Homo sapiens: one gene and its partner. The protein of the gene in region 1 binds, or shares a complex with, the protein of each later gene. Each region holds a gene or a part of one and is shown in the gene's direction. Other genes may lie near its edges. The genes, in order: TUBGCP2 and NME7.

Evidence for each region.
Region 2: TUBGCP2 (region 1) and NME7 share a complex: the UniProt entries of both Homo sapiens proteins name them as parts of the gamma-tubulin ring complex.

Annotation. Positions count from the first base shown.
Region 1 is NC_000010.11:133,298,801-133,306,844, reverse strand, and holds part of TUBGCP2 (gamma-tubulin complex component 2), read left to right. Parts: intron 1-3,864; 5' UTR 3,865-3,903; coding exon 3,904-4,053; intron 4,054-6,731; coding exon 6,732-6,860; intron 6,861-7,241; coding exon 7,242-7,418; intron 7,419-8,044. UniProt on the Homo sapiens protein: Component of the gamma-tubulin ring complex (gTuRC) which mediates microtubule nucleation.
Region 2 is NC_000001.11:169,294,526-169,302,569, reverse strand, and holds part of NME7 (nucleoside diphosphate kinase homolog 7), read left to right. Parts: intron 1-3,806; coding exon 3,807-4,014; intron 4,015-8,044. UniProt on the Homo sapiens protein: Possesses an intrinsic kinase activity. Displays 3'-5' exonuclease activity with a preference for single-stranded DNA. Does not seem to have nucleoside diphosphate kinase activity.

The DNA of each region.
Region 1 (8,044 bases):
TAGAAGAGATACGAAGTTTCCTGAAGGTAGTTTTTATTTTTTTTATTATTATTTTTTGAGACAGAGTCTCGCTCTGTTGCCCAGGCTGGAATGCAGTGGTGTGATCTTGGCTCACTGCAAGCTCCGCCTCTCGGGTTCATGCCATTCTCCTGCCCCAGCCTCTGGAGTATCTGCGACTACAAGCGCCCGCCACCACCCCCGGCTAATTTTTTTGTATTTTTAGTAGAGATGGGGTTTCACCATGTTAGCCAGGATGGTCTCGATCTCCTGACCTCATGATCCGCCCACCTTGGCTTCCCAAAGTGCTGAGATTACAGGCGTGAGCCACCGTGCCCAGCATGTAGTTTTTAAATAAATACTCAGATGATTTTTCTTCATAGGTAGCTTTCTCTCCTGACTTGTGTCTGGTGGGGGAGTGCTTTGTTTTGGTGGCAAATGGTTTTCTTGCCACCTAGCATGACCAAAGTGTTTCTCAGACCAGCAGTTATAGGACAACCTGCAGTCCTCGGGGAGCCGAGTAGAATGTGGGTGAAACAGGCCACCCTTGGATTTGAAGGGGCCGCTGGCCGGAAAGTTTGGGCTGTCTTTTCTGCTTCACAAGTAGTTTGCAGGGCCTCGTCCAGGGCTCCCATGACTGTTAAAAAAGCATCTGGTAGTTTAAGATGTTGTCAGTGATTGGGACCCAATTTTCCTTTTGTAAACCTAACCATTTCCCAGATAACAGAGTTAACACCTCCAGGGAGCAATGGTGCCGCATGTTTGTTTCTGCTTTCCTGGTAACAACAGTGTAAGAACTTACCACGTATGGGCCCTTCTGTGCTTTCTCAGGGTGATTTCACTTCTCTCTACCACAGCTCTACGCAGGACCTAGGGCTTCCCCTTTTCAGAAGAAGCTTGGAGAGGACGTGTCCTTGTTCAGGGTCCCACAGCCTAGAAGTAGCCACGTCAGTGTCCAGACTGCATGGGGCTCCATGGCGCGTGCCCTGCTGGCCTTGTGCTTGAACTGTAGTTACCGTGAGCACCTCCTGGGTCAAAAGCATGTGTGTGAGCAACTCAGCACCATGCCTTCTTATCGCTCTCCTTCCATTTTCGGAGATACCCTGCCTGTGACCAGTATTTGATGTTCATCTACAGATAAACTGTCTTCCATCACACAGGATTAGAATCTCGGTGTCGAGTCCCGTGCTAATAATCGTTAGTGAATTAGCATATTGTGGGAGTATGTGCTGAGTCTTCTGTACTCTATTGTAGGGACCAGCCCCACAGGGTCGGTGGGTTTTTCTCCTCGTGTGCGGAGATGAGAGATTGTAAAAATAAAGACGCAAGACAAAGAGATAAAAGAAAAGACAGCGGGCCCGGGGAACCACTACCACCAAGACGCAGAGACCGGTAGTGGCCCCGAATGCCTGGCTGCGCTGTTATTTATTGGATACAAAGCAAAAGGGGCAGGGTAAAGAGTGTGAGTCATCTCCAATGATTGATAAGGTCATGTGTGTCATGTGTCCACCAGACATGGGGCCCTTCCCTGTTACGTAGCCGAGGCGGAGAGAGAGAGGACAGCTTATGTCATTATTTCTTCTATGTTCTTTTCAGAAAGATCAAAGACTTTAATACTTTCACTAATTTTGCTACTGCTATCTAGAGGGCGGAGCCAGGTGTACGGGATGGAACATGAGAGCAGACCAGGAGTGTGACCGCTGAAGCACAGCATCACAGGGAGACAGTCAGGCCTCCGGATAACTGCGGGCGGGCCTGACTGATGTCAGGCCCTCCACAAGAGTTGGAGGCGTAGAGTCTTCTCTAAACTCTCCGGGGAAAGGGAGACTCCCTTTCCCGGTCTGCTAAGTAGCGGGTGTTTTTCCTTGACACTGACACTACCGCTAGACCAAGGTCCGCTTGGCAAGGGGCATCTTCCCAGACGCTGGCATCACCGCTAGACCAAGGAGCCCTCTGGTGGCCCTGTCCGGGCATGACAGAAGGCTCACATTCTTGTCTTCTGGTCACTTCTCACTATGTCCCCTCAGCTCCTATCTCTGTATGGCCTGGTTTTTCCTAGGTTATGATTGTAGAGCAAGGATTATTATAATATTGGAATAAAGAGTAATTGCTACAAACTGATGATTAATGATATTCATATATAATCATATCTATGATCTAGATCTAGCATAACTCTTGTTGTTTTATATATTTTGTTACACTGGAACAGCTCGTGCCCTCGGTCTCTTGCCTCGGCACCTGGGTGGCTTGCCGCCCACACTCGATGTTTTGTTGAGCTCATCCTTGTCTCCCTGAAGCTGTCAGCAGAGTGGTTGTTTACCTTTTTTGGGTCATAGAGCCTTTGAGAATTTGTTGAAGGGTCATCTCCTCAGAAAATAAAAAGTTATTTTGCCCATAACTTTCAAGGGCTCATCTGTTACTGATTACTCATGGATACCGGCTTAAGAACCCTTGTGTAGATGAAATGTTTGTGAAGCATGTAAAGTTTGCTTATATTTGTTTTGTAATCTATAGCCAGTTGCCTTGCCTGTGTTTTTTGTTTTGTTTTGTTTTTTGTTGAGACAGGGTCTCCCTCTGTCGCCCAGGCTGGAGTGGCTCAAGCGATCCTCCCACCTCAGCCTCCCGAGTAGCTAAGACTACAGGCATATGCTACCATGCCCAGTTAATTTTTGTATTTTTTGTAGAGACAGAGTCTCACTGTGTTGCCCAGGCTGTCTTGACTCCTGGCCTCGAGTGACTCACCTGACTCAGCCTCCCAAAATGCTGGGATTCCAGGCGAGAGCCACTGCACACAGCCATGTGTTTGTCTTAATGGCCTTGTATCGGAACTCTTGGTGACAGAGGCTAATGAGCAGCCACTGGTGGGAGAGTAGGGGCGGCGCTCACCCTGCCCCCTGACCCAGGGGTGGGCTCACCCTACACCCTGACCCCACGCAGTGTTCTGCTGCCCACTTGGGTGTCTGTGACGCCTTCGATCTCATATGTGTTATATGTCTCCTGGTGAGCCCCTGGGGCAGCTGGAGCTGCAGTGGAACTTCACCTAGCTCAAACGTGTAGGGAACGTGTAGAAGTCCTACCAGAAGCGTCTCTGTCGGTAGCCACGCTTGGGCAAGAAAAGGAGATGTCACGGGTACCAGAGTGAAAAAGTAACGCAGAGCCGGCCAAGTGAATGGAGCTGCGGCTGAGCACCGCGGGCTCTGAGAACCAGTGTGGGCCTCTCCGGTAGAAGCTGGGATGTTACTGTGTGTGCCGGTAGCTGGCACAGTGTCAATGGCTTGGGCCTGCACAGAGCTCCCTGTGTAGACCCCACAGGCCTCACGTCTGGGACCAGAAAGCTCTGTCCCCAAGCCGAGGCGAGCAGCAGAGCATTCCCTGCTGGCCCAGACCCATGTGTGGAGGGAGGTGCAGGGGAAAGGGAACCTGGGTCTCAGGCCCCATTCATGCTGCCCACGGGGCTGGCTCCCGGAGCTGCGGAGGCCGCCTGGAAGCTGGAGGCAGGTGAATCCCAGGCCCACCCAGAGGACCCTCTGAGAGGCTGCTGGGGTGTCGGGGAGGGGCCCTAATCCCAGGCCCATGCAGAGGACCCTCTGAGAGGCTGCTGGAGTTCAGGGAGGGGCCCTAATCCCAGTCCCGTCCAGAGGACCCTCTGAGAGGCTGCTGGGGTGTTGGGCAGGGGCCCTAATCCCAGGCCCATGCAGAGGACCCTCTGAGAGGCTGCTGGGCTGTTGGGGGAGGGGCCCTAGGCCAGGCAGGCCAGGTGATAACTTGGTTTGTCAAAGCCTGACATTGGCCAGTCTTGAGTGTTTAAAAAAATGTTTTTTATTTCTACAGTTTGAATTTTATGAATAGCTGTCTTCTTACCTATAGGAGAACATATTGTGATGTTCGTGCCTCAGAGCTAAAACTATGAGTGAATTTCGGATTCACCATGACGTCAATGAACTGCTTAGCCTGCTGCGTGTCCACGGAGGAGATGGGGCTGAGGTCTACATTGACCTGCTTCAAAAGAACAGGACCCCGTACGTCACTACCACTGTCTCTGCTCACAGTGCCAAGGTGAGCACTGCCCTTGGTGTAGCGCTGTGCAGGGTGAGCACTGTTCCTGGGTCAGGGTGGTGCAGGGTGAGCCCACCCCTGGGTCAGGGTGCAGGGTGAGCGCCGTTCCTGGGTCAGGGTGGTACAGGGTGAGCACCATTCCTGGGTGAGGGTGCAGGGTGAGCCCACCCCTGGGTCAGGGTGCAGGATGAACACTGTTCCTGGATCAGGATGGTGCAGGGTGAACCCACCCCTCAGTCCATGTGCAGGATGAGCGTCGTCCCTGGGTCAGGGTGCATGATGAGCACCGCCCCTGGGTCAGGGTGCAGGGTGAGCGCCACCTCTGGTGCAGGGGGCAGGGTGAGCGCCACCTCTGGTGCAGGGTGCAGGGTGAGCGCCACCTCTGGTGCAGGGTGCAGGGTGAGCGCCACCTCTGGTGCAGGGCTGTGCGGGGTGCAGGGTGAGCGCCACCCCGGGGTCAGGATGGTGCAGGGTGAGCACTGCCCCTGGTGCAGGGCTGTGTACCGTGCAAGATGCAGGGTGAGTGCCCGTTCCTGGGTGGCCTCAATGGTACCGGCAACGATGGCAGACAGCACTTGGTCTGTGTGTGTGTTCAGCTCTGATTCTCCTGACTCCCCCCAGCAGCTCCTGTGATTCACCCCACTGTGCAGATGAGTAAATGGAGGCCTATGGAGAAAGCTGGGCCTAGAACCCTCCCTCTTCCCCACTCTGTCCCCTGCAGCCATGAGGTGGGAGAGTCCTGACATGTGCATTCCTGTGGATAAAAAGGGAGGGACTGGGCCAGGCGCGGTGGCTCACACCTGTAATCCCAGCACTTTGGGAGGCTGAGGCAGGTGGATCACAAGGTCAGGAGATCAAGACCACCCTGGCTAACACGGTGAAACCCCGTCTCTACTAAAAATACAAAAAATTAGCTGGGTGTGGTGGCGGGCACCTGTAATCCCAGCTACTCGGGGGGCTGAGGCAGGAGAGTGGCGTGAACCCGGGAGGTGGAGCTTGCAGTGAGCCGAGATATCGTGCCACTGCATTCCAGCCTGGGCGTCAGAGTGAGACTCTGTCTCAAAAAAAAAAAAAAAAAAAAAAAAAAAAAAGGGAGGGACTGGTATTAACCATGTTGAAATGCCTTTAAGGTATTATTTCTTTATTCAGATAATATGTAATTCAGAAGTATAGATTTTCAGTAAAAATGATTTTGAATTTGAAGTCTATTTTAAAAAATACATTATGAAGCTTCAGTTATTTAAACAGGTTAACAATGGCACAAGGATAATTAGGCAAATTAGCCGAGTGGAATAGAGACTTGGGGACACCCATGTTTAGTTCATTCTGAAGGAAGCATTGTAAATCACTGAGTAAAACATAACCCCTGCTGGGCACGGTCGCTCACACCTGTAATCCCAGCCCTTTGGGAGGCCGAGGCGGGTGGATCACCTAAGGTTGGGAGTTCGAGACCAGCCTGGCCAACATGGAGAAACCCCATCGCTACTAAAAATACAAAAATTAGGGCGTGGTGGTGCGTGCCAGTAATGCAGCTACTCAGGAGGCTGAGGCAGGAGAATTACTTGAACCAGGGAGGTGGAGGTTGCGGTGAGCCTAGATCACGCCATTGCACTCCAGCCTGGGCAACAAGAGCGAAACTCCGTCCAAAAGAAAAAGCATAACCCCTAGGGTTGCACATAATAACAAATTCCAGAGGGAACATAGTGAGGTGTATACAATGAACGCATAAACTACTGCGGGGAATACAGTGAGATGCAGACAATGAACGCATAAACTACTGGGGGGAAAAGGTAAGTCGCTACTCTCCAGTACAAACCTGAAGAAGCATAAAAGGGAACACAGTGAGATGCATACAATGAACGCATAAACTACTGGGGGGAAATGCAAGTTGCTACTCTCCAGTACAAACCTGAAGCAGCATAAAAGGGAATACAGTGAAATGTATACAATGAACGCATAAACTACTGGGGGGAAGTGTAAGTCGCTACTCTCCAGTACAAACCTGAAGAAGCATAAAAGGGCGGGCGCAGGGGCTCACACCTGTAACGCCAGCACTTTGGGACGAGGCAGGTGGATGGCTTGAGCCTGGGAGTTTGAGAGCAGTCTGGGCAACATGGTGAAATCCTGTCTCTAGAAAAAATTAAAATAATACGAAGAAGCACAAAAGGAAAGGAACCATAATGGGAAATACGGATAAGGTTTGTTTTGTTTTGTTTTGAGACAGAGTCTTACTCTGTCACCCAGGCTGGAATGCATGTGGCACGATCTTGTCTTACTGCAGTCTCAACCTCCCAGGCTGATGTGATCCTCCCATCTCAGCTTCCCAAGTAGTGACCACAGGCAAGTGCCACCACGCCTCGCTAATTTTTGAATCTTTTTGTAGAAATGGGGTTTTGTTATTTTGGCCAGGCTGGTCTTGAACTCCTGGACTCAAGCAGTCTACCAGCCTCGGCCTCCCAAAGTGCTGGGATTACAGTCATGAGCCACTGCCTAGCTCAAAACATGGATAAGTTTAACACAATATGGAGATGAGTTTTGTTAGTTTATTTCAGAGGGATAATTATTTAACCTACCCAATTTAATTCCATTGGCTTATTGTGTTCAATTTTCGTAAAGGTTTTTTTTTACAGTGCTTTATTAATTACCGTCATTAAATCACTCATGTTTGTGCTTTTGAGGTTAAAATTGCAGAGTTTTCTCGTACTCCAGAAGACTTTCTAAAGAAATATGATGAACTGAAATCTAAAAATACAAGGAACCTTGACCCGCTGGTGTACCTGTTGTCAAAGCTCACGGAAGACAAAGAGGTAGGTGCCCATGCCACGTGCCACACTGCGCCCGTACGGCCCATGTTGGGAGTGGGGTCGCGTCTCCTGCTCACTCCACGCCATCTTCCTGTCAGCTCTTCCTCGCTCACACCAGTAACGCTTCTAGGCCATGTAGGAAATTTTTGGTGAATCAGAATGAAAGATAACCCATGTTGGGTGTAAACATGAGAAGCAGCCTCTGGGGCACTTTGAGCTTCCCGCATGTGTCACGCTCAGTTCCTGCCTGTCGCACGCGTCGCTTTGCTATTAATGGGTGCCTGTCAGGGTTGGGGAGCCGTCCTGGTGGTGTCGTCCCTACTCTCCCCCTATGGCCAAAGAGGTGCTGGCCCAGTGTGAACACACAGTTTTACATGTTTTCAGACTCTGCAGTACTTACAACAGAATGCAAAAGAAAGAGCTGAGCTTGCAGCCGCTGCTGTGGGCAGCAGTACCACCAGCATCAACGTCCCTGCCGCGGCCTCCAAGATCTCCATGCAGGAGCTTGAGGAACTGAGGAAGCAGCTTGGCAGCGTGGCCACAGGCTCCACGCTGCAGCAGGTACTGCGTCCATGGCTGTCCACAGGCTCCATGCTGCAGCAGGTCCTGTGTCCGTGGCGTCCACAGGCACCCACACTCAGTGCTGTGCCGGGCCCCTGCTGGAAGGACATGTCTCTCTGTCATTTATTGAAAATGAATCCCTTAGAGAGGCCAAGGCTTAATGCTTGATCATGACCTAGCTCTATATGTTTAGTTTTTTTTTTAACCAAGAATTCTGGACCACAAGAATCAATAGCAGCAAGGTTCTGACCCACGTGGGAGTTGTGCTGCCAGGTGGCCACGTGACTCTGAGCCTACCCAATCCTGACTCCCCATTTCCCTCCTCCAATTTTTGACAATTTTGAGGGAATGCTTTCAGATCATTATATTTTCAAGATTCTCGAAAATACAGTAATTTTTATTATTCCTTCTGTATTTGCTACTTGCTCTTGGTTTTGATTTTATGCCCTACCCTGGTCTTTTGACGTAAGTCATCTCCCAGTCTCTCTCATTAGAGCTGCCACGTTCCTGCCTTTGTGACCTTTAAACTCCCTTTGGAGCTGTGTCCCTGAGGCGTCCTAGCCTCCTGGGTGCGTGTTGAGTGCAGCGGCTCCCAAGGACCCAGCCGGTTCTTGCTGGGCACGTTC
Region 2 (8,044 bases), on another chromosome or scaffold:
TTGTCCATGAGTAGCCATTATTTAGTTCCCACTTATAAGTAAGAACATGTGGTATTTGGTTTTCTGTTCTGCGTTAATTTGCTTAGGATAATGGCCTCCATCTCCATTCATGTTGTTGCAGAGACCATGATTTCATTCTTTTTTATTGCAGCATGGTATTCCATGGTGTATATGTACCACATTTTTTTTATCCAGTTCACCACTGATGGGCGCCTGGGTTGATTCCATGTCTTTGCTATTTTGTATAGTGCTGCAATGAACAGGCAAGTGCATGTATCTTTTTGGTAGAAAGGTTTGTTTTCTTTTGGATATATAGCAGTAATGGGATTTAAGGTTCAAATGGTAGTTCTGTTTTAAGTCCTTTGAAAAAACTCCAAACTATTTTCTACAGTGGTTGAGGTACTAATTTGCATTTCCATCAACAGTGTATAAGTGTGTTCCCTTTCTCTACAGACTTGCCAGCATATCTGTCGTTTTTTGACTTTTTTTTTAAAAAAAAATCAACTTCTATTTTAGATACAGGGGGTACACATGCAGATTTGTTACGTGGGAATATTGTGTGATGCTGAGGTTTGGAGTATGGATCCCATCATCCAGGTAGTGAGTATAGTACCCAATAGGTAGTTTTTCAAACCACCTGCCTTCTCTCCTCTAGTAGTCCACAGTGTCTATTACCCCCAAATTTGTGTCTATGTGTGTTTAATGTTTAGCTCCTACTTGTAAGTGCGAACATGCAGCATTTGGTTTTCTGTTTGTGGATTAATTTGTTTAGGATTATGGCCTCCAATTGTGTCCATATTATTGCCAAGGACATAATTTTATTTTTTTATGGCTGTGTAGAATTCTGTGTTATATATATATACCACATTTTCTTTATCCAATCTGCCACTGATGGGCACTTGAGTTATTTCCATGTATTTGCTATTGTGAATAGCACAGCAATGAGTGTATGAGGGCATGTGTCTTTTTGGCAGAATTTCTTTTCTTTTGGGTATATACCCAGTAATGGAATTGCTAGGTTAAATGGTAGCTCTGTTTTAAGTTCTTTGAGAAATATCCACACTGCTTTCCACAATGGCTGGAGTAATTAATATTCCCACCAACCGTGTATAAGCATTCTCTTTCCTCTATAGTCTTGCCAGCATGTTATTTTTTGACTTTTTAATAATAACCATTCTGACTGGTGTGAAATGGTATCTCATTGTGGTTTTGATTTGCATTTCTCCGATGATTAGTGATATTGAGCGTTTTTTCGTATGCTTATTGGCTGCTTGTATGTTCTTTTGAGAAGTGTGTATTTATGTCTTTTGCTCTTTTTTTAGTGGGGTTGTTTCATGCTTGTTTGATTATTTAAGGTCGTTACAGATTCTGCATATTAGTCCTTTGTTGAATGCATAGTTTGTGAATATTTTCTCTCATTCTGTGGATTGTCTTTTTACTCTGTTGCTAGTGCAGAAGCTTTCTGTGCAGAAGCTCTTTAGTCCCACTCGTCAATTTTTGTTTTCGTTGCCATTACTTTTGAGGACTTAGTCATAAATTCTTTCCCCAGGCCAATGTCCAGAATGGTGTTTCCTAGGTTTTCTTCTAGGATTCTTATAGTTTGAGGTCTTACTTTTAAATCTTTAATCCATCTTGAGTAAAGTTTTGTATATGGTTAATGTTAAGGGGCCAGTTTCTTTCTTCTGCTTATGGCTAGACAGGTATCCCAGCACCATTTATTGAATAGAGAATCCTTTCTCCATTGCTTATTTTTGTTGACTTTGTCAAAGTTCAGATGGCTGTAGATGTGTGGCTTTATTTCTGGGTTCTCTATTATGTTCCAGTGATCTATGTGTCTGTTTTTGTACCAGTACCATGATGTTTTGGTTACTGTAGCCTGTTGTACTTTTAAACTATTTTGGTAGTCTTGTATACATAAAGCAATGTTCATGGAACCTTTCTATTTTAACTAGTTTGATATATATTTTGTTCCTTGACATAGAACAGATAATATATGTTACACTTTATGTATTCTAAATATTTGACATGTAATTAAATTTAAGTGAATATTTTGCATGCTCATATTATTATTACTGTTGCCAAAGACTGTTTACACTTCTAATAAGAAAGAATGTTACATCAGCCAAACTAAATGGCCACAGTAGACATGTTATTTGATATCCTGCACTGAGTAGTGGGTTTTTAAAAAAATTTGTATGTAAGAAAATTATTATGCTATAGATTATTTCAAATCAAGTGTTATAAAATATTCCTAAGCCTTCTTAGAATAGCTATATACACTTTTCTAGAAAATTGGTGGAAATTATCTTTTGGTATAAACTTTGTATATGTTTATAGCATTAACTTACAACTCCTAGTCTAATGATTTATGTGTGATTTGCATGCAGTAAATTTTATTAAAGGAATGAATTAACTAGTTGCCTGTTAATGAGAATGATGTAACAAAAGACTAGGTGAAGTAATTAAATTTTCATGAAGCAGTATCTATGATCAGGCACATCCTTCCCTATATTGTTACATGCCATATTCATAGGCTTATTCAATTGTGTGTTTTGAGAATTTTGTATTAATAGGGCGTTAGATTGTAAGTGTCTTGAAGGGGGATCTTTTTTGTGGCACAGACGCTGATATGTTATAGGCAATTATTAAATGCTTATTGAGTGAATAAACATGGTTTGCTCCTTTGATTTGGGTTTTTTTAAATCTAGTGGTTGGTCTTGGGGGTTTTGTTTGTTTTGGCAGCAAAGGTCTGGCAGAAAATGTATGAGGAGGTATTATAGAACTCTTAGGATAGAAGACAAGAATACTTTTTTGTACATGCTGTTTTTTAGAAATATTCTTCAAAATGAATGGGAGTGTTTTAAAAAGGAAGTACTGAGGGGAGCTGACATATAACATGCAGGGTGGAAGGAAGTGTGTAAAAAATAGTCATAAGTTAGTGGGCACAAAAGAGCCTGTCACACCATGCTCCTTTCTCCAGGAGGATCTCTTCTCTCTACTTTGGATGAGAGAAAACCATGGGCTTACTCTAAAAAGTACTGTGTCCCTGCTTAATATAGTCAGAGGGAGGATGTCACTTATTTCATAGTTAAACTTGTCATTGCATCCTGTACACATATAAAAGTAGAAAATAAAATGAAGTATTGTCTTTTATACCTTGGGGGACTGTGACTCAGTGCTGGATTTTTAGTCAAGAACCGATGCGTACACTTTAATAATTTAATACAGAAATAACCCAGAGTAGTTTTTACGCTAATAAAAGGATATTTCTTGAAGCCTGCTGGGGATTTTTTTTTTTATCACCAAACCAGCTCAGTGTTTATTGATTAAGAGAGTTCTTTGTCAGTCTTTGAATTCTAATAGTTTTACACAAAAATAAATAAATTCTTACTAAAAATATGTTACAAGGCATCCATCCCTATATATTGTGAAATTGTACTTGACTGCAGTGGTAAACACATGTAAATAAAAAGGAAAATCCTCTGTACCTGTTAGAGCACTGGGAAAAGCATAGGTCAACAGTATGCATTTTAAGTCATGAAATAGTCTTAATTCAACAGAACAGTGATTTTTCTGGTAACAGTAATTTGACATTACTAGTGATTTGAAGTGAATTGAGCCACTGCAAGACACTCAATTTATGAAAAATTTCTCCTGCCCATGTAAAATTAACTATGCTTAATGGTTCTAAGATTATAATATTCATGTCTATGTTGAAATAATCCAATTTAAATATATCCTGTCGTTAAGACAAATACCTAGTTGACAGAAAAAAGAAGCAAACTAATCTTCTATCTGTTTTGTAGTGAGCTGATCCAGTTTATTACAACTGGTCCTATTATTGCCATGGAGATTTTAAGAGATGATGCTATATGTGAATGGAAAAGACTGCTGGGACCTGCAAACTCTGGAGTGGCACGCACAGATGCTTCTGAAAGCATTAGAGCCCTCTTTGGAACAGATGGCATAAGAAATGCAGCGCATGGCCCTGATTCTTTTGCTTCTGCGGCCAGAGTAAGGTGTTTTAAAAATATTTTAATGCTCTTCTAGTTCTGTTAAATGTTTTATATCAAAGGAAAGCATTTCTATCACTGGTGACTTAGGGTGGATTTATGCTGCTGCTCTAGTAGTAGAGAAAACCTTTGACATCTTGCCTACTATCAAACAGTGATTCAGTGTGTCTCCTTTGTGAACTGGTAACCTGATCATGATCAACGTAAGTTTTCTCCAATTAAAACACTTCTCATCCTGTTTCTTGTTCCCAAGACTTAAATTACTGAGGCTCCTAAATGTTTGAATTATTGAATTCATGTAAGAATACCAGTTTATGGCTAGTAGATATTAAAAAGAAGATATAATTTGAGATATTTCCTTTTGATTCAGACGTAACACTGTGCTTTCAAGCTTAACATCCTATTATTTTCCTATATATAGCTAGTGTTTATGAAAGTTTCTCTACTCCTTATTTTTAAATCCATATAAATAAAGCATTTATTGGATTTATACTGAGGTTGAATTAAAGAAGTGTAAGTTTATTTTTAGCATCGTGAGAAGTGTCTCACTTAAGGTAGTTTTTAATCTGGTTGTGTTTGCAATGAAACAATATTAGACAGTTTTATAATTGATTTCTTTCTTTTTCCTACCATTTCATCAGCAAGTCCCTTCAGCTCTTTCAAAATAAACCCTGAATCTGATCATTGTGGTCTGAATCACTATTATATTTTGCCAGAACTGCTACAATAGCCTCCAAATTCTTTTTTCCTCTTTTCTTACACTCAATTAATGAAAATTTTACCTTACCCAAGTAAAATCAGCTATGCCCAGTGATCTTTTAAAGACAAATCAGATTAACATTCACCTGCTGAAAACCCTTCAGTGAATTTCTGTCTCTTCTAGAATAAAATCTAAAGTCTTTATTGTGGCCTCCAATGCTCTATCTAGTCTGGCCCATATCTATCTCTAACTGTATCTTTGATCAATCTCTATCTTAATCATTGTGTTCCAGGCACACTAACCATCTCGCTATTCCTTGAATAGCATATTTCTGTCTGGAATGGTCAACTAACAGCAAAGAGGACAGTGTGGTTGGATAGGAATGAGAGAGGGAGGAAGAGGGTGATGAGGTTACAGAGGTAATTAGGGGAAAGATTATATGGTCTTATAGGCCGTAGTAGTACTTTTAGATTTTTCTCTGAAAAAATAGAGAGCCATTTTAGGGTTTTGAACAAAGGACTGATATCTTCCACTTGCCATTTAAAAGGATCATTCTGGCTGTTGCATTAAGAATGACTATAGAGGCTGGGAGTGGTGGCTCACACCTGTAATCCCAGCACTTTGGGAGGCCAAGGCGGGCAGATCATTTGAGGCCAGGAGTTCGAGACCAGCCTGGCCAATATGGTAAAACCCTGTTTCTACTAAAAATACAAAAATTAGCTGGGTGTGGTGGCGCCCACCTGTAATCCCAGCTACTCCAGAGGCTAAGGTGGGAGAATTGCTTGAACCAGGGAGGTGGAGGTTGCAGTGAACTGAGATCATGCCACTGTGCTCTAGCCTGGGTGACAGAGTGAGACTCCATCTCGGGGGAAAAAAAAAAGAATGACTATAGAGGGCAAAAACAGCAACAGGGAGCCTAATCAGGAGTCTGTTGGAATAACCCAGTGAGATGATGGCTTGGACCTGGGTGGTAATAATGAAAGAAGTATACAAATATATTTTAAAATATATATTAACGGTTGAAGGTCAAATAAACAAGATTTTCTGCTAGATTGAATGTAGAGTATGAGAAAAAGATACCAAGTATTACTCCAAAGTTCTTAGCCTGATTATCAGAAGGATAGAATTTACGTAAACTGAAATGAGGAAAACTGTGGCTAGAGTCAGAATGAATGGACAATCAGGAGTTAACGTTTTGGACATTTATAAACTTAACCTGTTTGTTAGTTTTCCAATTAGACTGATGAAAAAAATTAGTGTGACAGCTTAGAGTTATCAGCACATAAATGGTATTTAAAGCCGGGAGACTGGTTGAGATTACCAAGGAGAAGGTATAGATAGAGAAGTAAAGAGGACCAAAGATGAAGCTACATCTTGATAAAAGGTAAGGAGAAGAAGGCAGCAAAGGAGGTTGAAGAGGAGCCACCAGAGAGGTAAGAGGAAAAACTGAGAGATAATTATGTCCTGGAGGCCAAGTGAATCAAATATTCTAAAATGAGAGAATGACCAGTGGTGTCAAATAAGGCAAGTAAGAAGAGGACTAAGAATGGATTGTTAAATTTTGCAATGTGGATATCATTGGTGAACTTTGTAAGGTGAATGTTGATGGGGAGGTGGAGGCAAAACCCTGTGTGGAGTAGACTTAAAAGAAAATTGTGGGACGGGAATTGTAGTTAGTGAATATAGACAACTTTTTTTTTGAGGAGTTTTTTTGAGGAGTTTTCCTGCAAAGAGATGAGGTGGTAGCTGTCAAGAAAAGTAGTATCAATTTTTTTTAAGAGGAGAGGTATTGGGTAAAAAATTGATGATGTAGGAAAAAGAGGAAGACTTGTTGGAGCAATTTCATTAATTAGGCAAAAGGAAATGGAAATTAGAACCCAGGTGGAGAGATTAGGCAGGTGTGCCTCTCAGGTACTCGTCTATAGCAACAGATGGGAAGGGAGAATATGTGAACACAGATGCTGATTCTTAAGTAGGAAGCAAGATCAAAACAGCTGAAAGTGAGGATGAGGTATAAGGTATTGGTTGGTCTGAAGGGAGAGAAGAATATGTGAAATGGTGATCTGGAAAAGGAATAGATCAGGGAAATGTGGTGTGTGATTGCTATACTGAATTAATGGCCCATGTAGTGTTCATGGCCATGAACTATGAGTGTGGTTCTCCAGCCTGTTCAACTGCATGGCTGAAGGTAAGGAGTAGGTGGAGAGCTGGCTTTTAACCATGGCTGTGGTTTTGTGAAACAAATGTGACGGAAGTGTTAAGGAAGTTAAAGATACATGCAAGAGAGCAATTATAGTCTTTGACCATATCTTAGTAGTAGACATTTATTGTAAATGTGGTATTGTTTTGTATAGTTAAATTTCCAATCATATTTTAAAGCATTATAAAAATAATAAACATATCTAATTAATGAAGGAAATAATTGAGGCTGAACTGAAAGTCACTACCATGTTTACTGATATTTCCTGCCTATTTCACCCTATTACCACCTTATGCCATCCATTTCTTTTTTATTTCTACTAGATTATTTAATAAATTTGAGCATAAATATACTTGTTAGATTTTAGCATATCTTGTAGTGGAGCAACTTTTGTTAAGTTAGCTACTGTCTCAGTCCATTTTGTGTTGCTGTGAAGGAATACCTGAGGCTGGGTCATTTATAAAGGAAAAAGGTTTATTTGGCTCATAGTCCTGATGGCTGGGACATCAAGATTGGGCATCTGCATCTCGTGAGGGTCTCAGGCAGCTTCCACTGCCTGAGGTGGAAGGTAAAAGGGAGCCTGCGTGTGCACAGATCACATGGTAAGAGAAGAAGCAAGCCACCGGGAGAGGTGTCAGGCTGTTTTTAACAACCAGCTTTCAGAGGAACTAATAGAGGGAAAATTCGCTCACCTTGGAGGGAGGGCATTAATCTATTCATGGGATTTACCCCTACTATCCAAACCTCCCATTAGGCCCTATCTCCAACATTGGGGATCAAATTTCAACGTGAGATTTGGAAGGAACAAACATCCAATCCAGAGCAGCTACCATTGCCATTTCACCTAAAGAAATGTCTTAAACATATTCGTTTATATTTTGTGCATTTAATTTTTTTAACCTCTTTCTGCCATTAGTTCCTGAAATATCCTATTATTTGTATGAACCCTTTAGGATATATATTTTTTTACCCTTGTCTGGGGAAGAGTGAGTGTTGTTGACATTATGTTAGGTGGCTCTAGGAATTAAGGAAAAATATTGTAGCTGGAAAATGAGCTTATGTGAAGAAGCAAAGACCACAGGTCTTAAAAAATTGAAAAACATCACAGCCCCAAACTTATGCAGCCCCAAA